Linked DNA regions of Homo sapiens: region 1 is linked to region 2. The links come from fine-mapping of genetic effects on gene expression. Tissue or cell type: left ventricle. Region 2 holds a variant in brackets; the other region holds the start of a gene. All regions are shown on one strand. Distances are from middle to middle.

Region 1 (12,912 bases), 36 kb before region 2:
GTGGGTTTCTCCCCATGTGCAGAGATGAGAGAGCGTACAAATAAAGACAAAAGACAAAGAGATAAAAGAAAAGACAACTAGGCCCGGGGGACCACTACCACCAAGATGCAGAGACCGGTAGTGCCCAGAATGCCAGGCTGCGCTGATAATTATTGGATACAAGACAAAGGGGCAGGATAAGGAGTGTGAACCATCTCCAGTGATAGGTAAGGCCACATGGGTCACGTGTCCACTGGACGGGGGCCCTTCCCTGCCTGGCAGCCAAGGCAGAGAGAGAGAGGAGAAAGAGAGAGACAGCTTACACCATTATTTCTGCTTATTAGAGACTTTTAGTACTTTCACTAATTTGCTACTGCTATCTAAAAGGCAGAGCCAGGTGTACAGGATGGAACATGAAGGCAGACTAGGAGCATGACCACTGAAGCACAGCATCACAGGGAGATGGTTAGGCCTCCAGAAAACTGCAGGTGGGCCTGACTAATGTCAGGCCCTCCACAAGAGGTGGAGGAGTAGAGTCTTCTCTAAACTCCCCCAGGGAAAGGGAGACTTCCTTTCCTTGTCTGCTAAGTAGCAGGTGTTTTTCCTTGACACTAATGCTACCACTAGACCACGGTCCACTTGGTAACGGGCGTCATCCCAGACGCTGGCGTTACCGCTAGACCAAGGAGCCCTCTGGTGGCCCTGTCTGGGCATAACAGAAGGCTCACACTCTTGTCTTCTGGTCACTTCTCACTATGTCTCCTCAGCTCCTATCTCTGTATGGCCTGGTTTTTCCTAGGTTATGATTGTAGAGTGAGGATTATTATAATATTGGAATAAAGAGTAATTACTACAAACTAATGATTAATGATATTCATATAAAATCGTATCTAAGATCTATATCTAGTATAACTATTCTTATTTTATATATTTTATTATACTGGAACAGCTCGTGCCCTTGGTCTCTTGCCTTGGCACCTGGGTGGCTTGCTGCCCACAGTGTCAGCCAAAGCATTTGTAGTGCAGTTATAGTGGGATCCATTCTCATTCACAGGTACCAGCAGCAGTGGTAGTGGCAACTGCGGCAGGGTACTAGGGTGCCTGCCTCCCTGAGGGTATTCACCATAGTGGTGGAGGCAATGCAGCTAGGGGGAGCAGGGGCCCCTGCTGGTGAGGGTGTGCATGGCTGCACTGGTTGTGGTGTTGGCTTGGGAGCTGGATGCTGGCAGGTGCAGGTCTGTGAGCTTTCTCTGTGCCTCACAAGCATGAGTAATTGCTCAGGCCAGGGAGAGATCTGTTGTTTTCTGCACCTAGTTTCACTCCCACAGCAGTGTTAGTGCAAGGGCAGGGCACCGTCGGGGCAGAATTCGCTCTGTGCTCATCAAGGCTCCATCTGCAATGATGGTCAGCAGTGAGAGAGGGTCAGACTGCACTCTCGCGCTGCAGTGGCAGGGTAAGGTGCACACATACTGGTGAGATGGCAGGGCAAGGAAAGCAAAACCTGTCTGCAAAGATATGCACCAGCGAAGCAATGTTGGGAATTGCTGTGGGTCTCAGGGAAGCTGCAATGTGGGGAGGGAGTATGTGGGCTGTGAGGGCCACCCAGCTAGAGCTTTCCAGTCAGGCACAGTCCGCCAGCACAGAAACTATGATGTGGGCCCCCACGTGCCTGAGATTGCCCTGCAAGCAGGTGTGGCTAGGCTAGGGCCTTGGGGGAGGCCAGCAGAGCAAGGGGTGCTCAGGTTGGACCAGCCCCAACTGATGGGCAAGATTGCCCTACAGAGTTCAGGACTAACAGTTCCCCTGGGGCTAAAGTCTCCTATGGAAGTAAGTTGATCCAAGGGGGATGGGTGTCCCTGGCCATGCTCCACTACAGATGTTCCTGCTCCAAACCCTCTGTGCTCCACATCAGCTGGCTTGCTGCCCCTACCAGTTCTCTAAGTAGCCCTTCCTGCCAATTCAAGTGTCCATGGTGGTTGAGGGGTCTCCTCCTGGTGGGGTTCCAGAGGCCTATGGCAAGAATGTGTTGCTCCTTGCAAGTTCAACTCACCCATGCCCTCAGAGCCACTGGGGTCAAGGAAAGAGTCCGGGTGCACGGTAGCCCCATAGAGTGTTCCCAGGTTTCTCCCCACTTCAGCCCAGCTTCTGTGTCTTCCCTACATCATTTTTGGAGGGAAGTGGTAGGGGCAGCCTTCCCTCTGAAAATCTGTTAGGAGTATACCAGCTGTCTCTGTCCCTTGGTAGAAGCTATTCTACCTGGCTATGTCTAGTCAATCATCTTGCTGGGCTAACATTATCTTGTTGGGAGAGCTGGCTTTACAAAGACTAGTCAAGTAATAAGAAAAAAGTTTAAAAATCATAACACACACACACACAAAAAAACCCACTAATATAATCAGTCTGGTCTAAATACTGGTGCTAAACCATGAACCTACTGTTGAAGGTAACCAACTAAAGAAATCAAAAGACCATGTAGGAAACTGGTTGAGTCTTGAGTCCTGTTGTAGCCATTGGGTAAAATTTTATGACTGGGTTGAATTACAGCAGAGAATGTCCAGCTCTACAACAGGGACGATGAGTATAATTTGAACAAAAGATTATGTTAGAATTATGACTGAAAACATACTCGATTTCTATGAATTTATATAATTTTTGAAACATTCATGTCAACATGTACATAAATGTAACTAAAAGAAAATCTAGTATCACTTATTTGACGATGTTTTTATACAATTCACCAAATAAGCCTAGTCATCTCTACAAAATGAGAAATATGTCTTTTAAGGTTTTCCAGGAGCCTAACTGAAAAAATCTCAAAGTTAATTTTAGGTCAAAAAGTCTTAAAATAGGATTTGACCTGGGAGACATTTGTCAAAGATGTTAAAAGGTTCAAAACAGAATCACAGGTTGCTGTGAAATAACAGTTATTCATTTAACCAGTGTCATAATCAAAAGACTTCAAAAGCAATAAGAAAGTCACATGGATTTAGAAACCTTAACCCTTTTAAAACTCATTTTTTTTTAAGTAATCAAAAGCCTAATAAAGGTAACATAGAAAGTTAGTTTGCTAAAACATAAAATCTTTGTTTCTTAGACTCGCTACCAAAAACGTAAAGAAAGCCCTCTTCGGTGTGATTGTTTTTCATTATGGGAAGCTCATTCAGATAACGTGGAAGTTGAACCTGATGAAAAGGGAACTTGAATGTCATGAAACACAGGAAGAATATGTCCAAGGTTATAAGTATACACTATATTATAGAGGAATATAAACAAGAAAACTAGTACCTTGAGCAGGGAACTACATGGTTCTTAGTAACAGCATGCTGTTACTTACCACAGTAACTTTTCTGGTTATATGGAAAAATTCAGACATATCAAGAAAAGCCAAGAGCACAAAATTAAGTTATACTGGAGAAAAACGCTGCTTTTCTACGCCTTCAAGATAAATATTCTAATGTCAGGCCAAAACAGCAATGTTAGAACCAAAAAAAGCCAAAGAGGAGAATGATCATCTCAGGCCTTCTCCAGGGGAGAAAAAAATGAAGGAAATGACATATTGACCTGCAAATCATGTACAGCAAGAAACTGTAAAAGATGAACTTCTGCAATATGAATTTGAGAAATAAAAAAAAAAAAACAACTGTACCTCAAGGAATGAAATTACCACTTTAAATCAAGAAGACAACATTTTTAACCCAAAACTAGGAAAATTAAATAGATGTCAAGGAGAAGATACCTGTTTAAAAACAGAGTATAAATTTAAAAATCAAAACCCCTTAAAATTTTATTAAAATCAGATAATACTTCAAGAAATCTTGTTGTTTTAAATATAAGGAACCAGACTCTGGTTCTGTATCAGTGCCTGTCCCCTGGTCCCCTACCTGAGAACGTTTAATTTTTAGAAAAACACACAAACAATTTGTTTTTAATTCCAGCCAAGTCAATAACACATAAAACTTCTTTTATTAGCTCATCCTTTATTAGTCCTCTTCAACTTTAGACCTTTTATTTTCCTAACCCCTACCTCTTAGTCCTATAATTTTTCTTTTTTTAAAAATGTGGGATAACCAATCATTTTATCTTATCTGACTATGATACAGACATTTATTTTGTATATATGATTTAACATAAAATTTTAAGACTTTAAATTACATGAGTTCATTTATAAACATTTATTTCATTTACAGTTAATTTATTTTTTAACAATTATACCTATATTTCTTACAAAAATTGAGATATTAGATGGAGCTGGTCATTATTTCAAGTTTTTTTAAATTAAATAATTATATAGCCTGTTAACATGAGGTGTTTACCCACATAAGAGCCATAAAGTTAAATACATGGGTATCTGTAGATAACTCAGAAAATACAACTTTTGTTTTTTTCCTTACAGGCAAAGGCTCACTCTGTTGCCCAGGCTAGAGTGCAGTGGTGTGATCATAGCTCACTCTAGCCTTGAACTCTGGGCTCAAGGGATCCCCCCTCCTCAGCCTTAAGAGTAGCTGGGATCACAGGCACATGCCTGGCTAATTTTTAAATTTTTTTATGGAGATTGGGTCTTGTTATGTTACCCAGGCTGATCTCAAACTCCTGGGCTCAAGTGATCCTCCCACCTTGGCCTCTCCAAGTTTTAGCATTGCAGGTGGGAGTCACTACCCAGCCACAGCTGTTTTTGTTAAATAATATTAAATTAATCTTATTTATCAAAGAATTGCATAAATATATATCACTTTGCTTTAGGCCTGGTTTATAGCTTCATGACCTTAATAGCACAGGCAAATATAAAACTGACCAGTGCTGGTGCTCAGAAACTGATATGCCAAAACATGGTATTTGACACGCTAAACTAAAGAAGCCTCAAGGTCTCTCTGACTTTTCCTCCAACCCCACCATCCTTCCCAAAGAAGCTGAAGTTCCTTTATCTGCCTAACAACCAGACCCACCAAGGAGAGCAATTGTTGGTTCTCCTCCTCCTGTTATCTCATCTGTTAAAGAAAAGAAGACCAAAATGTAACCACACCCAAGCAGACCTTTATAGAAGTACAATGACTGCCTCCAAGGATTATTTAAATTCCAAAGAAAACTATTTACAAGTTAATATCTGTTGCTCAATCCAATCATTCTCTCACCAATCATTCATTGCCCCTCAATAAATTCCTCTTCTCCTCCCATAATCTGTTTTACCAGAATCCAAGCCCCCCATTCTTTCTGTAATTTCAAGACTAGTGTATAAACTTCTATAACTCATTGAGAAGTTGGGTCTTTATTCTGAAAGCTCCTGTGTATACACATTAAATACATTTGTATGTCTTTTCTCTTACTAATCAATGTGGCCCATGTCAGTGATTTTCCAGCAAATCTTTGGGGGGCTGAGAGCCATAGCCCCCACACCAGTAAACACAGGCAAAAATATATATTGACAATTAGAAAGACGTTTTTAATTTTATTTTATCAACAATTTTAAAACCAATTACTTTTTTAAAGATTAAGTTACATGAACTAAAAAAATTAGGTTAATTACTATGTTTTTGTGTGAGTGCCCATCTATTTAAACCAATCAGATTAACATTTCTTAAGGGATTTTTGGCCTACCACACTGAATTTTATTATGTAGACATAACATACAACATAATACATGTACATATGTGTAAATATATTTAAACAAATATACACATAAAGGTCTTCTAGCTTTTATTTTAGAATTTTAGTTGTGAGATAGTAAAACATATAAACTTGCTGGTTTATAGAGAACAGTTGGATCCAAATTATTTTTCTGGTAAAATGAGATAAAGGCTATGAATCAAATTTTGGTAAAACAGTTTGAGTTAATTACCAGTGCAGGGACCAAAGGGAAACTTCAGTGAAGGCTCACTGAAAAATCAACCTGCAAAAGGCAGATTAATTGGAGAAAAAGCATACAAATGTATTTAATATGTATACATGGGAGCCTGCAGAATGATGACCCAAGCATATAGAGGAAATTGTCTATTTTTAACTTAGGATTAATAAAATATAGACAGCAATGTAGAAATATGATTGGACAGAAAGAGTATGAGCTAATGCCAATAAAATGAGTGGGGAAACCCAGTGAAAAAAGCCAAACTCTGTAAAATATTTAGAGGTTTATTCTGAGCCAAATATGAGTGACCACGGCCTGTGACACAGCATCAGGAGGTCCTGAGAACATGTGTCCAAGGTGTTTGGACTATAGTTTTCTTTTATACATTTTAGGAAGACAGAAGATACAGGCAAAAACATCAGTCAATATATGTAAGGTATACATTGGTTTGACCTGGAAAGCCGGTACATTTTGGAGGAGGAGGGGTTTGGCCAGTGGTGGCAGGAGGGAGGTTGTGGAAGCCAGGGTTCTTGTTACATATGTGAAGCCTGTAATATGCTTCAGAAAGAATAGATGGCATATGTACCTCAAAAGGTAAATGACCTTAAACGGTGTCAGACTCTTAGTTAAATCTCTCCCGGATCAGAGAAAGACCTGGAAAGGGAAGGAGATTGTCCACAGAACACAAATTTCCCTCGCAAAAGATAGCTTTGCACAGGACCATTCCAAAATATGTCAGAAATATATTTTGGGGTAAAATACTTTGATCGCCCTTAGGGCTGCTACCTGTCATGTGATGCTATACCAGAATCAGGTTGGAATTTGTTTTGAGACAGGTTCTCACTTTGTTGCTCAGATTGGAGTACAGTGGCTGTGATCACGGCTCACTGCAGCCTCGATCTCCTTGATGTGGGAGGCTCAAGTGATCCTCCCACATCAGCCTCCCAAATAGCTGGGACTACAGGCGGCCACCACCACACTGGGCTAAATTTTTTTAAAGTAGAGACAAGTTCTCCCCATGTTGCCCAGGCTGGTCTCTAACTCCTGGCCTCAACCTCCTTATTCTCTAGGATTACAGGCGCCAGGCTAGACCTCACAGGTCTTTAGACTTCTACGCACCAGGTACCTGGTAGGGGGAGGGATTATAGTGGCAGAAGAGCAGTACCAGTGGCCCACACCACACACCCTGGCCTCAGCTGGCTGGGGCACACAAAACCAGGTGCTACCGTCAACGACTAGGCCCATAGGGTACTGCTGTCAAAACCTGCTGCCAACAACTTCCACACACTCCCCAAAACGCTCGGTAGGCGGTGGTGCGCAGCTTTCAATGCATCCGCCGCCAGGCGCTCACAGGCAAGGGAGAAAGAAGCCAGACGGAGCTCGGAGATGTGGAGGGCAGACGCAGGCGCATTTGGAAAAGGGACTGGCGGTGGGAGGCGCAGAGGGAAAAAGGAACGACACAATCGGGCTTCCTAGCCGCTGGCGGACCCGATGGGGCGTCCTGCGAGGGTTCGGCGAGGGTTCTGCCAGGATAGTAGCATTGCGCCCAAGGAGTGAGAGGCACCCGGGGCTACTGGAGCCAGACCCTCAACCCGCCCTAGTGGGAGGCGAAGAACAACGAAAGCCTCGTATTCCCATTTCTCTAATGGCTAATGACATTAAAGGTTTTCATATGGTTATTTGCCATCTGCATATCTTCAGTGAAGTGTCTGTTTATGTCTTCTGACTATTTTCTAATTGGATTTTTAAAAATAATTGATTTTTGAGTTATTTACATATTCTAGATACTGGTTGTATGCCAGATATATGGCTTGTAAATATTTTCTCCTAGGTAAACCTTTTCAGTATCGTTACAGGGTCTTTCACAAAGCAAAAGTTTTAAATTTATGGAGTCTAATTCATCAACATTTCTTTTTACCGGTCTTGCCACTAATGTCAATTTAAGAACCTTTTGCCTAGCCTTAGACAATAGTTTGTTGTTTTTTAAAACCGTTTTGTAATTTTACTCGTCACAGTTATATCTAGCCACTTAATTTTTATGTAAGGGTTATTTTTGGCGGGGGGGAATCTATAGATGTCCTGTCTTTTCAGTATCATTTGTGGAAAAGATTATCTGTCCTGCATTAAACTGCTTTTGGACTTTCGTCTAAAATCAGTTGGACCGGTTTTTGTTGGCAAAGTTTTGCCTGAAGCTTATTCCAACAGGTGAGAAAAAGTCCACAGTTTAACAGTTCCTCCCCAACCTGTAACCCCGCCTTGAACTTCTGGACTAGCCCCTCGATTGTTGTAGATGCCAAGCGGACCTCGCGCCGCTCTGCGTTGGGCCAGCCCCTCACAGCTGGTTTCTTACCACGTATTGCGCAAGCGGAATCTATGCCTGTTACCCACACTCCCTGCGCCCCCGCACCCCGCTCCTGTGCGCAAGTCGGAATATAAAACCGCGGAGGAGTGAGCTCTTGGGGTGTCCAGTTGGTTGCCGCGGCAGTCTCTCCGAGCAGCGCATTTGTCTTCTAGGCTGCTTGGTTCGTGCCTCCGAGAAAGGTAAGTCTTTCTTTCGCTTTTTTAGGGGTACTTGAAAACAACAAGTGTCAGACAAAGCAGCAGATGCTGTTGCGCAGTAGAAGTTTATGGGCGAGTTGTCCCTGAAACTGGAACCAGGTCTTTCTTGGCGCGATTACGCAAGAACCACCCGCAGCCCTGCGGGCTCCTGGCAGGTCCTGCAACTGCACTTTGGATAGTCCCGTTGGGAAGCTAGCACTTTTTAATATAGAAGAACGAGGTTTGATAAGTGTGCGAGCTTAAAGGTTGACACAGTGTCCACTATTACAGCTGCGTAGGTAGCTAGTGTTCAGGAAGTAATAGTGGAGTCATGTAGTGTGAAAGTAAGATTGAAATGGGCGAGGAGGGTAGCAGCCGCCACAGCCACCAGAGAGAAACCTGACCTTGCAGGTGCGTGGTGATGTCCATGAGCCAGGCTGGTGCCGCAACAGCAGCGGCGGGACCTTGAGCTCCGCACGGCCGCTGGGTTTGGACGCCCTCTGGTTCCTGGAAACTTTCACCTCCCCCTCAGCCTGAGGCCAGGTGGCCTGGGAAGGTGGAAGGAGTGTGGAGGGGAGTGGGGGGGGGGGTCCACTGCCTGAGAATGAGAATTCTCTTCACATCTGGAAACTTCAGTTATCACGTGTGTCCTTTACCAATTTTTTTTCTTTTATTTTCTTTTTGATAGAGACGGCGGTCTCCCTATGTTACCCAGGCTAGTCTTGAACTCCTGTGCTTAAGCGATCCTCCCACCTTGACTTCCCAAAGTGCTGGAATTACAGGCATGAGCCAATGCGCCCGGCTGCTTTACCAATTTTCTATGAATGAATTTGTACATACATCCCCTAGAGCAGGAAGTAATGTAAAACAGAATAATTAGTAATGCACATTTCCTAATGTGGGATGTTGGTGGCCAAGAGATATTTGGTCTTTACTGGAACTCTTGATACTAACATGGAGTTTATAATAGTTGTGGAGAGTGCAGACAAGGCTAGGATTTCTGTGACTAGAGAACTCTTAGTGCGTGAAGACCTAAGGAAAGCTGGATTGTTGATTTTTGTTAATAAATAAGATGTGAAAGATTGCATCACTGTAGCAGAAATCTCCTAGTTTTTTAAGCTAAATTCTATTAAAGGTCATCATTGCTAAAGGAATTGTGCCCAGGATTTGGATAGCTGATGTCATTACTTAATATTAGATGATATCAACTAACCACATCTCATAGACTGGAATAAAGTGCTAGATTTTACCTGAAAGCTGCAAAAATGAATGGTTTAGATATATGTATGTATTTATTTTATATCAATTTCAAATATTTACTGTATTAACCTCCCTGGCCCCCTTTAATCAAGAATATAAAATCATCTACTTAAATTTTGCCACTTAAGTTTAGAACACTCTTAGAATCACACTATCTTAAAGAAGCCAGACTAGAATTAGAAGCAAGTTAAGTCTGAAGATATAACAACCAGCAACAACATTTTTTTTTTTCAAATGAAAACTCTAATATGGGGTGGGTATGTTGTGTCACACCTGTAATCCCAACACTTTGGGAGGCTGATGCAGGAGGATCACTTGAACACAGGAGTTCAAGACCAGCCTGGACAACATAGCAAAACCCTGTCCCTACAAAAAATAAGAAAATTAGCTGGGCATGGTGTCACATGCCTGTAGTCCCAGCTACTCGGGAGGCTGAGGTGAGAGGATTGATTGATCCCAGGAGGTTGAGGCTGCAGTGAGTCATGATCGCATGACTGCACTCCAACCTGAGGGACAGAGCAAGACCCTGACTCAAAAAAAAAAAACAAAAAAAAAAAAACCACCACCAAAACTCTAATATGGACATATTACTCTCTCATGGGACTTGCACATTCTAAAAAGGGTCCTTTTCCCCAGTACTGGGAGAGTATGTGTTCAACTACGCAGCCAGCAAGACAGGCTAGTTTATATAGGGAGTGTGCTATTCACAAAAAGCCTCTCTTCTCTTTCTGGTATTGTACATGACACAATCATAGCTGTACCTGAAGAGAAGTGCATTTTAAGGACCATCATCACCTAGAAACATGTATAAATTTCTATACCTAGTGCCACAGGAATGACATTGCCTTGTACTATTCCTACCTCTGTCCAGAGGCCAGCTATGTGGTCTGTCTGCATGGTGCCTAGAACTTTTTCCATCTGACCTAGGATGCTTCTGAAGCAGTCCCCCTGGGCAGCTGTCTGGTATTTAGGATATACCTGTGAGAAAAGTTTCTTACAAACCTAATCTACTATGTTTATTCCTGAACTCAAAAAGTTCATTGACTGTTCAAATCCTGAAATTTTCTCTATTTCCATAAGGCTGAATTAAAAGTACTTTGTTAAAGGTAGTAGCCATGGCAAAAGAAAAACCACTGTTCTGTAGAAAAACTCATTCAATATTTACAATCTTTTCTAATCAGAGATTAGATCCTGAAGAGAAAGGTTCATATATATATATATATATATATATATATATATATTTTTTTTTTTTTTTTTTTTTTTTTTTTTTTACTCCACTGTCATTGTGACTAAGGATTCATGAACTAAGACCCCTCCCTCAGCTCTTGGTGGCACATGGTGACAGCATGCTCAGAGCAAAGGTGCTCCCCATGCCTCTTCTGGGGCTGCACTGACTGCAGGTACCTCCCCTCTCTACATCCCACACCACTGATACCAAAAACCCCCTCCTTTCTCCTGTACTGATGACTCTGTAGCTTTAACCAGGGCGGCGGTGTCACTCTAAATGTCACCTTGGCATTCAGCCCCATAGAGTGGGGAAAATTCCCTCACCTGTTTCTCTTTGACTGTTCAGTCCTCTTCAATTAAAATCTTAATTTTACAAGCGAGGAAATGAGAGTGTTTCTTGTAGGGGTGTAGTGAGAATTTAATAAAACAGTTTAAGGAAAGAAAACAAAAGGTAGTATTGCTGCACTTTCTAGATGGTAAAAAGCAAACCACCATGTCTGTTTAATATATATCACCTGCTGGTCCCTCGGTCTAGCAGGCTGAACTGTGTGCCTGGGAATTTTCTTCTCGCTGTGTGCACCCCTTTACGTCACAGGGTGGACTCTCTTCAGAGTCCTAGTGGAGCAGCTGGCCAGGCTGACATGATCTGACAACATTGTAGGTTACCACTACCATCTCTCACCGTCTCACTTTCTTCCTAGGGGTCTCCTGCTGCCAGCTAAGTGTGGGAGAACTTGTGCACGTATCTCCCCTCCGAATCCCAACGATGGGTAACGCCAGCTTTGGCTCCAAGGAACAGAAGCTGCTGAAGCGGTTGCGGCTTCTGCCCGCCCTGCTTATCCTCCGCGCCTTCAAGCCCCACAGGAAGATCAGAGATTACCGCGTCGTGGTAGTCGGCACCGCTGGTGTGGGGAAAAGTACGCTGCTGCACAAGTGGGCGAGCGGCAACTTCCGTCATGAGTACCTGCCGACCATTGAAAATACCTACTGCCAGTTGCTGGGCTGCAGCCACGGTGTGCTTTCCCTGCACATCACCGACAGCAAGAGTGGCGACGGCAACCGCGCTCTGCAGCGCCACGTTATAGCCCGGGGCCACGCCTTCGTCCTGGTCTACTCAGTCACCAAGAAGGAAACCCTGGAAGAGCTGAAGGCCTTCTATGAGCTGATCTGCAAGATCAAAGGTAACAACCTGCATAAGTTCCCCATCGTGCTGGTGGGCAATAAAAGTGATGACACCCACCGGGAGGTGGCCCTGAATGATGGTGCCACCTGTGCGATGGAGTGGAATTGCGCCTTCATGGAGATTTCAGCCAAGACCGATGTGAATGTGCAGGAGCTGTTCCACATGCTGCTGAATTACAAGAAAAAGCCCACCACCGGCCTCCAGGAGCCCGAGAAGAAATCCCAGATGCCCAACACCACTGAGAAGCTGCTTGACAAGTGCATAATCATGTGAGCCCTGGGCCTTAAGAGCCAGCTCTTCCTATCCTGTAGCGTGTAGAAAACGTGGACTCATTTCACTATGTTACATGTACATGGTTGATTTTGTGCTGTTGTTTGGACTGTAACATCCATGTTGTCAATACGTATACCTTGTAAGTGGATAACTTTTCTTTTTCCCAGGCCAGAGAATTCAAATTGTTAAAACATTGGCATTTGAAGAGGAGAACAAAATGTAGCATGATGTATTTAAAGTAAGGCCTTTAGTAATGAATGTAATGAGAGAAAATGTTTTGAAAAGAACAAAACATCAAAATGAATAGAAAGAAAAATTGGAAGGCGTCCTTTTGGTAACCCGATTATTGTGTATTACCTTTAAATATTTCACATCCTGTAAGTGCTTAATCATATCTTTTAATTGTGTATTTAAGAAAAGTGTTTTCACAACAAAAGCTTTTGATAAATTGCTGCGTGACATATACTAAATAAAAAAATGAATATGTTGATCATTAGGGGTGTGGGAGCAGAGAAAATTGTGAAAGTGACTCTCACTAAAGATGTTAGTAGTTTCTCATGTCATTTAAAAATGTTTGAGTATTCTGCATAGCAGTTTGTAAAAGTGTAACAGC
Region 2 (12,912 bases):
CCAAGTTCCCAACCTGTCCCAAAGGAGAGAAAAGGCAAGCCAATATGAAGGTAGAATTTTATTTTTAAGTTAGAATAATCAACTGACTTTTCTGTGCATATCAAAAATAAGAACTCAACATATGCTTAGAAATGCAATGACCCTCATGTTGCAGGGAAACTTGTCACTTTGTGGTTGACTTCATCAGGTCTGAAGCAGAAAAGCTTCCAGGGGCATCAGGTACCAGTAAAAGACCAAACAATTTCCTGGCAGAGTCAGGAAGAAAAGTTCACAAGTAACCTTCTTACAATACCGGAACACAATAGGAGAAAAGATGATGTCACTATAAGACTTAGAACTACAAGGATGAGGACAGGCCAGGAGCTGGAGGAGGCCATGGCATGTGCCACATGTACAAGAAGGAAGCAGATTCTAGATCCTGGAGTACAAGTGAGACACACAACAGGGTCCCTAATCCAGAGGGAGGTAATTTTTTTAATTTATTTATTTATTTATTTATTTTTATTTAATTAATTAAATAATTAATTATTTTTTGAGATGGAGTCTCACTCTGTCGCACAGGCTGAAGTGCAGTGGCATGAACTCGGCTCACTGTAGCCTCAGAGGGAGGTATTTTTAAAAAACATAATGTTTTTACTAATAACCAACAAATACTAGGCTCTCTGTCCATCCATTCATCTATCTGTCAAATATCTACTGGAAGCCTACTGGGTATTGGGGACTTTTCTAGGTGCTGAGGATACAGAGATGAATGTAACAAACTGGGTCTTTCCCTTAATAGAACACCATTCTAGTGGGTGGGTAGTATGGGGAGGAGGCACAATAATAAAATACCTAAATATCAGACATGCATACATACATACTATAACATCAAACAATGATAAGCATAATGAAGAAAAATAACACAGGATGAAGGAACCAAGAGTGGCCAAGGATGCTCTTCAGATAATGTGACCAGGACACTTTGCTAAGGATGCGATAAAAACATGATTGTGTGTAATTCCTACAACCGCCCTCTAAAGTGGGTATTAGTATTTTTACAGCAGAGGAAATGGAAAAGTAGTAGACTAACTTACTTGTCCAAGAATCAGACTCAAACCCAAACCTATCTCATGCCAACCCACATTTGATGCTTATGCTCTCCAATCCCAGAGATTTGGGCTGATTGGAGCTGAGCCAGGCAAAACCTGGCTTCTTGTTATTATTTTGTTCCAGCAAAAACATTTATTAAGTTTGTATGATGCATTAGACTCTGCACCAAGCTCTGGGAGATAGGCTCCATCCCTGCTCTAAATGAGGATACCGTCTGGTAGGAATGTGGACCATGAGGTAGGCACCTTGAAACAGTATCTGACATAATGTAGGCCTTTAGTCAATGTGTGCTGACTTGGTGAATGAGGGAAGAATGAACAAATGACTCTCTGTGTGCATGATGAGATGAGATTGGAGGGCTTGGTAAAAACACAGCTGCCTGGACACCAGCATGGAGAGGTGGCTTCAGTAGGTTTGGAAGAGGGCTCAAACATCTGTGATGTCCAAAGGTTGAAAGTTAATTCTGAGGTCCAAGAGTCAATTGTTACATATTTGGGAATTATGCAAGTTGGTTGCTAAACACGCAATTATTAACAATTATAAACAAGTAGATTAGATCAACTTATAATTACAGAAATTATATTTAAAACAAATATGCTCAAATTCAAAATACTCAGAATTCATCACTGTAATTCCCAATTACTTTACCACACTTAACTATTACCTGTGCTCTTGAGTTTTTCATCATTTTTATGTGTGTGGTGAAAATGCTCTATGATGTGGACGACTGCACACCCCTTTTGATCTCTCTGTTCAATGATGTCATGTTGGCGGCCTGAAACTGGCCACTGCAGGAGCATTTACACCATGGAAATTGCCAAACACTACTAATGAGGGCTTTGTCCTATTGGAGAGCCAGTTGTTTATTATTCACCAGCACACCATAGCACATAGAACTATAAGAACCACTGAGTGGGAAGAGGATGAATTCAAATCAACTGTGCCACTCACTAGCTCTGTGACCTGAGCAGCTTCTAAACCTCTCTGAGCCTAAGTTTTCTTAGGTCTAGACTAGAACTGATGTTATCTTTCCTCCTCCCTGACCCTCCCTGGCCTTGCCTCAGCCTAACTTAAAGGAGAAGGCCAGGTGCGGTGGCTCATGCCTGTAATCCCAGCACTTTGGGAGGCTGAGGTGGGCGGAACACCTGAGGTCAGGAGTTCAAGACCAGCCTGGCCAACATGGCAAAAACTCATCTCCACTAAAAATACAAAAAAGTTAGCCAGGTGTGGTGGCACGTGCCTGTAATCCCAGCTACTTGGGAGGCTAAGGCAGGAGAATTGCTTGAAACCGGGAGATAGAGGTTGCAGTGAGCCGAGATCGCACCACTGCACTCCAGCCTAGGGGACAGAGGAAGACTCCATCTCAAAAAAACAAAACAAAACAAAACAAAAAAAGTGGGCCAGGCATGATGTTTTACACCTGTAATCTCAACACTTTGGGAAGCCAAGGTGGGTGGATCATTTGAGGTCAGGAGTACAAGACCAGCCTGGCCAACATGGTGAAACCCCGTCTCTACTAAAAATACAAAAATTAGCCGGTCATGGTGGCACGTGTCTGTAATCCCAGCTACTCAGGAGGCTGAGGCAGGAGAATTGCTTGAGCCTGGGAGGCAGAGGTTGTGGTGAGCCAAGATTGTGCCACTGCACTCCAGTCCAGGAGGCAGAGTGAGACCCTGTCTCAAAAAAAAAAAAAAAAAAAAAAAAAAAAAAAAAAAAAAGGAGGAGAAAATGCAGGTAAAGCAATTATTTGCTTAGCATACAAGAGGCCTTCAGCAAAAGTCAGCCTTGTAGCTACTCTTGTAAAGCTCAAAGGAATGCTTTCACTAAGTGGTGACTCTTGTGCAGGAGAATTCAGCAGACAGAGAAGAAGCAGAGAGAAACCATTATGGTGATGGAGAAGCACTGAGTGGGCTGGGAGAGAAAGTGACAGAACATATTCTGGGGTGCTCTGAATGGTTCCACTGCTAGAGTAGTGGTTCTGAAACTTTCTAGTCTTGGGACCCCTTTGTAATATTAAAAATTATTAAGCACCCTCAAAATATTTTGTTCATGTGGGATATATTTCTTGGTATTTACCATATTAAATGTTGAAACTGTAAACATTTTTAAATCTGTATATTTATTAATTTAAAATAATAATAAACCCATTATGCATTATGTGCTAACAAAAATATCTTTTATAAAAAACAAGTATATTTTTCAAAAAAAAATAGTGAGAAGCTGGTATAGATTTACATCTTTGCAAATCTCTGTAATGTCTGGCTTAATCAAAGACAGTTAGCTGGGTTCTCATATCTACTTTTGCATTCCATCTGTTACAATAGCACACATCATGTAGCTTTTGGAAAATTCCACCATAAACTCATGAGAAAATGAAAGTGAATAAAGCAAATGATATGTTAGTATTATTATGAAAATAGTTTCGACCTAAGACTCCTTGACAGGGCACGGAAACCCCATTGGTCCTACAACCACACTTTGAGAACCTCTCATGTAGCACATAAAATTCAAAGTATATAACCGAAAAACTGATGGGTTGAAAAGATAAAACTTGAGAGAGAAGCAGGGGCTAGATGATATCTTATGGAGTTCATGAAGAGCTGTTGAGGGCTTAAAAGCCAGAGAGTGACAGGGCCACTTTTTTATTTTGCAAAGATCATGGCTACAATGAGAAAAGTAGATTAGATCAGCCAAGAAGGGGTTATGAAAGGGGGACCAATTAGGAGGTTGTTGCCCTAAAGCAGATGAGACATGAAAGTGGCCTGAATTGTAGTCAGGGCAGTCATGTGGGGGTAGGAAAGGTGGGTGGGTGACTCCTAAGTTTCTGACTTGGGCAGCTGAATGGATGGCAGGGACATAGAAGGAAGAATAGGTTTGAAATAGGAAATAATTAACTCTACTTTTTATTTGTAAATAGAATTTTCTAGAAGACTGTTGACAGATGGGGCAGAAAACAGAAGCGGCATTTGGGCAGGCAATAGTACAGCCTGGGAAAGCTCAAGCCAAAGCTTAGAGGGAACAACTTGATTTGACTGTGGTCACACAGCTTCTAAATGTGTTTCACATTTTTAACAGGATAACTGTATGAAAGGGATTATTGCAGAACCTGGCAAATAGTGGTCCCTAAATAAATCAGTTACTTTTTTTTTTATACCATCATTTGTCTATTTTTCTCTAATTTTCAAATGAATTAGTGCATTCATCTGGGATAATGCAATGCATGGGCTTAAAGTGAAAGACTTAATGTAATTTCCTTCAGGCTTGTGGCCAAGAAAATTAAGGTTGGAAAACATAAGGTAGCTATTCTGCAACTTGCTATGGAAAAATGGGAACAGTATAGAAATCTGTGAGCAAGATTATTAAGCATCTACCACCACAATGCTTCAGGAACAGAAGAAATCTGATGCCAAGTTGTACAGCTACAGCAGAGGGTTTGACCATAATCACAATGAATAGCACCAACATTGACCACACAAGTGATGAATGATATGGGTACGGTTTATAGTCAGGGACAGAGTGTCCAAAAGGAGAAGGGATATACATGGTCAGTAAAAGCTCATATAAATTTTGTCTTAGTCCATCCAGGCTTCTATAACAATACCATAGACAGGGTGGCTTATAAACAACAGAAATTTACTTCTCATAGTTCTGGAGGCTGGGAAGTCCATGATCAAGACTCTGACAGATTCAGTGTCTGGTGAGGGCCTGCTTCCTGGTTCATAGATGGCCATTTTGCTGCATCCTCACACAGTAGAAGGGGTTAGGGAGCTCTCTGGGCTGTTTCCTACAGAACACTGATCCTATTATGAGGGATTATACCCTCAGGACCCAATCACCTCCCAAAGTCTCCACTCTAAATGCCATCACATTGGGGATTCGGTGTTAATATATGAATAGTGGGGAGAGACATAAACCTTCAGTCTATAGCAGCTGCCATTCATTCATACATTACTCAACAAGAATTTCTTCAGTATCCAACTAGAGACAGAGCAAGGTGGTTAGGTTCCATGGGAGTTGTAAATTGGAATGAGACTAGGATCCTACCTTGAAGGAAGTTACAAGACAAATAAGAAATGTTTCTTGAGCTTTTACATTGTGCCAGACACTGTCCTAAGCATTTTACATATATCAGCTCTTTGGATCTTCACAACAAATGAATAGATTACATATTGCCACTGTAGTTTCCATTATACAAATGGGAAGATGAAGGCAATGAGGGATTAAGGCACTTGCCTAAGTCCCTAGAGCATGTGCCCAAGTTGGGTGGATAAACAGAAGTCTCTGAGAGGATGGTGCACACACATTGCATCTTTTGCAATGGGTGCAATAAGGAGCATGCCAAGGAACAGAGACTTACAGGTGGGAGCACATGAGGCTGGGCCAGGGAAGAGGCCACTTGTGGAGAATTTGGGAGGTGAGGAGAAAAGCCAGCCTAGCACAGAGCTGGTGCTTCATAAATATCTGTTGAATGGAGATTTAAGGAGAAAAAATACTAATAAAAATCCACAGATGGTATAACAGGACCAGATTTCTGAAGGCCGGGAAAGCCAGGTTAAGTAGTTTAACAATTATTTATATAAGCAGTGAGGAGCCAGAGAATCTTTAAGGGAAAGGATGTTATAATAAAAAGAATGGTTCAGAAAAATCAATATGGCAGCTCGTGTAGCACACAAATTGAAGGAGAAGGAGAATATGTTGTTAGGTGTTTTTGCAGTTCAAAGAAGAGATAAGGGCTGTCTTGTTTCTGTAAATGATAGTCTTTATCATTCTTTTCCTTATTATAAAGTAGGACATGGTCACCACAGGAAATTTGGAAAATATGGAAAAGTGCAAAGATGAAAAATACTAAAGAGGCCAATATACTGGGATAATTACTGTTAACATATTTATTTATTTTCAGTTATTTTTCTAGGCCTATATCCCCTAGATAGATAAAGAGATAAAGAATGGACAAATGGATGGATGGATGGATGGATGGATGGATGGATGGATGGATGGGATTGATTTAAAAAATTAAAATCATATTATTTGTAATTTGTAACCCTGGGTTTTCTCTCTCTTTGTGCATGTTGGGAATGTTTTCCACATGCCACTAAACATTTCTTTTAAGAAAACACATATTGGAATGATTGAAATATGATGTAAGCAATTTGTTAATTATTGGATATTTTCTTTGATTCCTGTTTTGTTTTTGTAGTTGCAAATAGTGCTTCAAGGAAGAACCTGTGTATAAAACTCAGTCCTGTCTCTGAATATTTTCTCAAGCCTGGGTTAAAAGATATGAGCCTTTTAAACCTTCTTGATCTGTTTTTCCAAATTACTTTCTGAAAAGACTGCAATAATTTGCATGTTTACCAGCCCTGGGCAAAAGTTCTACCAGAAGATTGCATGTTTTTTGAGTCAGTTTATGAGAACCTAGCCCTGAATCATGTGGATTATGCCAGACCACAGTTTCAAATAGGGTTTCAAATATTTTGACTTGGATTGTGTCAGATCAGGACAGTTTCTTTTTGAAGCCAGATTTGCTCAGTGGACCAGGGACTGGGTAAGTTACCACTTATGTTTTGGAAGTAGAAACGAAGTCTGACGTCATTGAGTTAGTTCACTGCCTGACAGAAAGGCATACAACTCAGACAAAGCACTTTAAAGAAATGGGAAGACTGGCTTTTCAGACACCTTATTGTCAAATTAGCTTCAAAATAGGTAATCCCTATTATGTGGCGCTTGACTACCCTGAATTTTTATCCCTTTTCTGTCTCCTCCTGATAAGCTGGGATTTGACTGATTCACTTTTTATTAACACCTCCACCAGAGGTCTGGAAGAAAGAGTAAAAGAAAAAAAAAATCAACGCTGCCTAGGCCTCCTTTTTGATTGGCAGAAGGAAAAAAAATAGAACATCAGTGAAGAGCATAATATTCCCTGTTCTCTTTGATTCCCAAATCAAAGAAAATTGAGAGCTTGTCTTAGAAATGATTAGGAAGGTTTTTCTTTCAATCACAAAAAGGGCCTGCCTGATTTTCTAGCTCTGGAGATTATATAACTCATCTTTATGAAACCTCGAACATACAGAAGGTATCATGTTTTTCCGGGAGGCTCCCCAGGATTTTGTCCCATCTCATTCACTTACCCTCGCAGCACGCCCCAGCTTATTTATCTATATAATGAACGGAGGCAGTGAATTAGATGAGTGTCAACCGTAACCACAATGATTGTTTAGTTCTAACATCTTAATCCAGGATGAATGACCCGTGGAGAAGACTTGGGGAGCAGTGGACCTTCCTTCCTTGGCTTTATCTATAGGCAAACTGTAGGTCCTTTCCATAAAGTCTACATGTATTCTAAGGGCTCTTCAAATATTACATCCAGTCCTCCTGAAGACAAGCACTGTTAATAGTGTCAATTTACAGATGA[A/G]GAAACTGAAGTACAAAGCATTTAATTCAGCCAAAGTCTCACATGCCTAGCTAGTAAGTGGCAGGGACACATTTCAGACTGAGTCAGCTTGGCCCCACAGTGAACGCTCTCAACATTCACAAACTGAGTGAGCCTGTCTCTGGACAGTTCAAATCCTGCCAACCCTACTTCCCAGTATCAACACCTCAAACAGATTTATGTCTCACTTTGCTCAAACCTAAAATAGGAACACAAAAACATACCTCACTGTGGTGGTGTGAACTATAAACAATGTATCGTTTGTAAAATATTCACTTATTGGCATTTGCTAGCTGTGTGACCTTGGTCAAGTTTACTTACTCTCTCTGTGCCTCAGTTTGCATATCTGTCAAACATAACAGTACCCATTTCAGGGGACTGCTGTGAAAATCACCTGTAAAGCACTCAGAATAGGACCTGACACAGAGAAACTACTCTTTAAGTGTTGTTTGTTATTAATATTATTATATTAGATGTCAGATTATTATAATAATATGTTTTGTTATATTATATTATAATTACATGCCAGGTACTGTGCAAAGCACTGGAGAGATAGCATTAAACAAGAAAGGTGGGTTCCTCCCATCAGGTCTAGTGAAGGAACAAATAATGACAAATGATAAAATGTTTGGAGTGTTACAAAGGAGAGCTACACATTGCTCTGGGAGCAACCAATGTAAAGCTCTAACCAGGACTGGGGATCAGGGAAGTCTTCCATAAGAAAGTAATTTAATATAGCAGATGCCAAAATCTTCATTTCTCCCCAGCGTGTTTTCCTTCCTTGCTCTTCCTATTGTCTCATCTCCTTTCTTCACCTTTACCACCCAATCCATGAACAAGATCTATAGGATTTAATTCCAAAGTGTACCCCACTTCTCTTCAATTCCCTTATCTACCAGATGAAGATATTGATATTAACCCCTCAAGGGTAGTATCATCTGAGTCACCAATATCTCCACATTGCATCCTGTACAGATCATCCAAAAGTTTTTGCCACTCCTCCTAACTCCCTCTCCCTCTCCCTGCCACCCTGTGATTTCTCCCTGTCATTTCTACCAGGCATTCTCCATTTAGCATCCAGGGTAATATTTTTTAAATGTAAGTGTAAATTAAAATGCTCCAATAGCTTCCATTTAGACTTAATATCTGAGCCCTGACCCATGGCCTAGAAGGCCCTAGATGTTCTGCTCCACCCACCTCTTTGATTTATCTTATGCTTCTCTAACTCCATCACAGTGTTCTAGGAACCATGACCTTTTTTCCCTTTGACTGTACAAAGCTCATCTCTGCCTCAGGCCATTGTATTTGCTGCTACCTCTCTTGGGAGTATCCTTTTTTAATCTTTCAGCTCACAGCTCATATCACTAAGAAGTGATCTAATCTAATGTATACCACCCTCTCCCACCCAACCACCACCCTCCAGAGAGCCTGGCCTGACCCATCTGATTACCCTTGTATTGCCTCTCAATACCACCGTTAAAGCATTATCTTGTTCCTTCATTGCCTGCTTGTTTTCCCTCTGTCTCCCCAGTGCTAGAATACGAGATTCATAGGACTTTGCCTTCCTATTTGCTACTTTCCCCATTGTCTAGAAAAGTGCCTGGCACATAGTAGGCACTCAATAAATATTTGTGATTTAAATGACTGAAGTGAATTTAACCTGGATCCTTGTATTAGCCCATTTTCACACTGCTATAGAGAACTGCCAGAGACTGGGTAATTTATAAAGAAAGGAGGTTTAACTGACTCACGGTTCTGCATGGCTGGGGAGGCCTCAGGAAACTTACAATCATGGCAGAAGGGGAAGCAGGCATATCTTACATGCAGCAGTCAAAAGAGAGTGAAGGGGGAAGAGCCCCTTGTAAAACCAACGGATCTCATGAGAACTCACCCACTCACTATCACAATAACAGCATGGGGGAAACTGCCGCCATGATCCAACCACCTCCCACTAGGTCTCTCTCTCAACACCGGCGATTACAATTTGAGATGAGATTTGGGTGGGGACACAAAGCCAAACCATATCAATTCTAAAAGAGGGATAAGAGATGGTCAGGTGGAGAGAAGAGGCAAGAATGTGCCAGGCATGGGTACAGTATGTGCAAAGGCCTAGGCTGGCAAGAGCATGGCATCTCTCACAAATGACAAAGGCCAATACAGCCAAAGCACAGACAGCCAGGGAGGCATGGTAAAAGATGAGGCTGGCAGATGAGTTATGCTGTCGACTGCTGACTTTTTTAAGGGCAGTGAGAAGCCCTTTTCTTTTTTTTTTTTCATTTTGATTTAGCAATTTCCTTTTATATATATATTTTATATATATATATAAAATTATATTTTAAGTTAAGCAACCTGTTCAGTGTTTTTGGAGGAACCTCTGTAGCCAATGCATGGATTTAAGGTGGATATATAATGTTGCAGAGCTTCTTTTCCTCTGCCTCAATTCTAACAAAAACTTTGTGGGGCAAATATGATTATTTCTAAACTACAGATTGAAAAAGCAGATTCTGAGAGCATAAAGAAGTTGCTGAAGGTCAGAATTTCTTTATTTTGCCTTGTCCTGGCTTGAAGCAGCCATGAATGAAGGAAACAGGGAGAAATGAAAAAGATCACCAAATGGAACTGATGCTCACAGGGCATCCTCTCCTCTCCTGAGGCAGGAGAGGGCATAGGGCCTAACACACATAGAACCTTCTCTTGTAATCAATATTCTTCTTCCTCGTGAAAAGACTATCAGGAATCTTGTCTCTTAAAGAGCTTCTCTGCTCTGTGAATTCTAACAACTGTCTTTACTGTAGAAACTTATCCTCCTGCTGTTCCTAGTTAAAATCTGAATCTTGGATGAATAGATATACCACTGGTCTGCAAGAGCAGTAAGGCCATTCATTCATTTGCTCGAACAATTTAGGTCCATCTTTTTCACCTGTAACTGATGAGGTCGCTGCCCTGGTTTGCTGCCACATCGCTTTTCTCCCTTCTTCTCTCCTCCAGAAGAAGGATGAGAGCCCAGAGCTGTGCCTGCTGCAGGTGGAAGGGAGCAGACAAGAAGCAGTTCCTGAGCACCGACTATGCGCCAGGCTTCATGCCAGGTGCTGTTCATCCCCTATCTCATTTCATCCATACACAGCAATTCCTTTCCTGTTTTGCTGATTAAGAGATCTAAGTGGCATTTTTTACATGAAAAATACTAAACATATTAGAATCAAAGTATATGTATTCTCTATTCTGACTGCCCCCGTGCTGGATCCAACCTCATCATCTTTCACATGATAAGAACCACTTTACAGTAACTTAGACTCCGGTCTTCCTCCCAACTATTGCATCCTCCATTACCACCAGAGTCATCTGGAAAAAGCACAAACATGATTGGGTTTCTCCTCTGCTTTGAAACATTCCCTGGCTCCCCATTGCCTGAAGTTAAGTTAACAGAGAGTGAGGGAGGCATGGTACAAGATGAGGCTGGCAGATGAGTCATGCTAAAGACTGTGGACTTTTGTGAGGGCAGAGAGAATCTCTTTTAAGGCTTAAATAACCTATCTAGTGTTAAGCAGACAGTAGCTCAGTAAAGAATGAAAACAATCATGCTTGAAGCACAATAATAAAAGAGTGCTATTAGAGCAATGGCAGAGGAGGGAGGTGATTCATTATACTTTTGCTGGGGGAGCAGCAATGGGGGCGGTGAAGACTTCACAGAAGGGGGTTGGGCTGGGTTTGGTGGTGAACAGAGGGGTCCCTCTAAAAAAATTGACAGCAACCTGCACAAAGCCACTGAAAGGCAAAAGCTGTGGCTCTGGCTGCCCCAAGGACACACAGCAGCCTATAGACTCTTTCTCTCAGGACTCTACAGAGCAGCATAGCAATAAGCAATGATTTGTTATAGCTCTGCTGTCAGGCAGCTTACCTAAATGTTAGCACCCACATGAACTGCATAATGATTTCTGAAACTCAATTTCTCCACTAATACAAGCAAACAGATTTAGTTACAGTTAGAGAGGGTTTGGGGGAAAGGCAGCCTCTAGAGAGAGGCCAAGACTACCCCCTCCATCGCCCCGACTCCGTCTCTGTGGAGCACTAAAGTACTGATTTGGATCAAGACCAAGGAGGATAGAGGCTCAGGGTTGGAGCAGAGATTTCAGTGTGATAAGGAAAATGATTTAAAAAAAAAACAACCCTGGAATCTGAATGTTAGATCTTCAGCTTTCCCTTTTTTGTCTTCTACATTTGGCTTTGGAAATATCTCTTCTCTCATGAGGCTAAGGAAGGGGTATCCATGTCCTGGGAAGGTCAAGTAGACACCACAAGGGTACCACAACATAGGGGATCAGGGGAAGGGAGGCTTCATTTGTCTTCTGAGGCATTTCCTAGCCTAGACCTTAAGCTAAAAGTGCAAAGAGAGTCCTTAACATTTTCCCAGTTCTGCTCATTGGGACTAAGAGCTCTACAGAGAAATTAGGTTCAAATCACAGCTGATAATGAAAAGAAACCATTTGTTCAGGTTCATTTTCTATGTATCTTGCCCTTGAAACTTAGCAGTCCAAGGTCAGCGGTAGTTGGAGATTGTCCTTTGTCCCAAAGTTTAGAGTTGCCACCTCCCAGGACCACATAAAGAAACAGGAGGACTCAAATTCAGGTCTTGTGATTGATTTCTCTGGGGCATTGGCACTGCTAACACAGGAGCCCACAAAAGGCTCTAGAAGCACGGGCAGGGAAGCAGAGTCAGCTTCAACTCCTGCATTCATCCAGGAGCAGAGCTCCTACTGATAAATACAAATTGATGCATTCTAGGCCACCTGGGCCTCTTGGATTGCTTACTCCTGTTCTTGCAGCTTCTCTAAGCTTGGGCATGCATTTAGTCAGTCCATAAGTGTTACTTTTCGGTAGACAGGTTTTTGCAATATACTCCTAAGGAAATGAGATATGCTCATCTTCCAGAGTATTCTAACTCACTTCCTGTGGTCTTTGTTTTGTGCAGGAAATACAAGGATAAATGGAAGGCAATTCAGATAACCAGGGCTTTCAGCATGGGGCTTATTGTCAGAACTTGGAAAAAAACGTATTTATTGAGGGAAAAAGGTACAGATAAGAAAATGGCAACTCCAAGAGGTTAATAGATGATCGGTAGACGGATGTAATGTAAAATGTGAGACAGAGTATTACTCTTACTCTATATACCAACCCTACACTGTCTGTGTAACTGAACCTACAATTATATATAAATACATTTATAAATATTTACTTTCAAAATATTTATGGTAATTCAACCCTCCTCTTCAAACTCAGTGTTATAGTGCTAATTCAGGCAATTAATATCTCTTTAATTTGTCTATTACAAGAACCTCCAGCTCCTTCTTCCTCTACCTAGCCACCAGAGGGTGTATTTATCTAAAGCAAGC

Which allele goes with the higher level. Alleles are on the strand shown, and positions count from the first base shown. SD is a standard deviation of normalised expression in the study named.
For the expression in left ventricle of the gene that starts at base 8,280 in region 1, A is the high allele of the variant in region 2 and G is the other (moderate effect, 0.50 SD a copy in GTEx).

What was found. PIP is the estimated chance that this variant, and not a neighbour inherited with it, causes the effect.
Region 1: it holds the start of DIRAS3, and the variant in region 2 is fine-mapped to the expression of DIRAS3 in left ventricle (GTEx, PIP above 0.99).

Annotation. Positions count from the first base shown.
Region 1 is chr1:68,045,995-68,058,906 of GRCh38, reverse strand. It overlaps DIRAS3 (DIRAS family GTPase 3), which reads left to right and starts at 8,280. Exons shown (of 2, transcript NM_004675.5): 1 at 8,280-8,359; 2 at 11,545-12,912. The coding sequence starts at 11,610. The coding sequence ends at 12,299. The region is part of intron 2 of GNG12-AS1 (GNG12, DIRAS3 and WLS antisense RNA 1); the gene reads right to left. It also overlaps the pseudogene ARL5AP3.
Region 2 is chr1:68,010,275-68,023,186 of GRCh38, reverse strand. The region is part of intron 1 of GNG12-AS1 (GNG12, DIRAS3 and WLS antisense RNA 1); the gene reads right to left. Among named protein-coding and RNA genes, the nearest start is that of DIRAS3, 34 kb to the left of the region's middle. The variant A/G (reference allele first, on the strand shown) is at 7,505.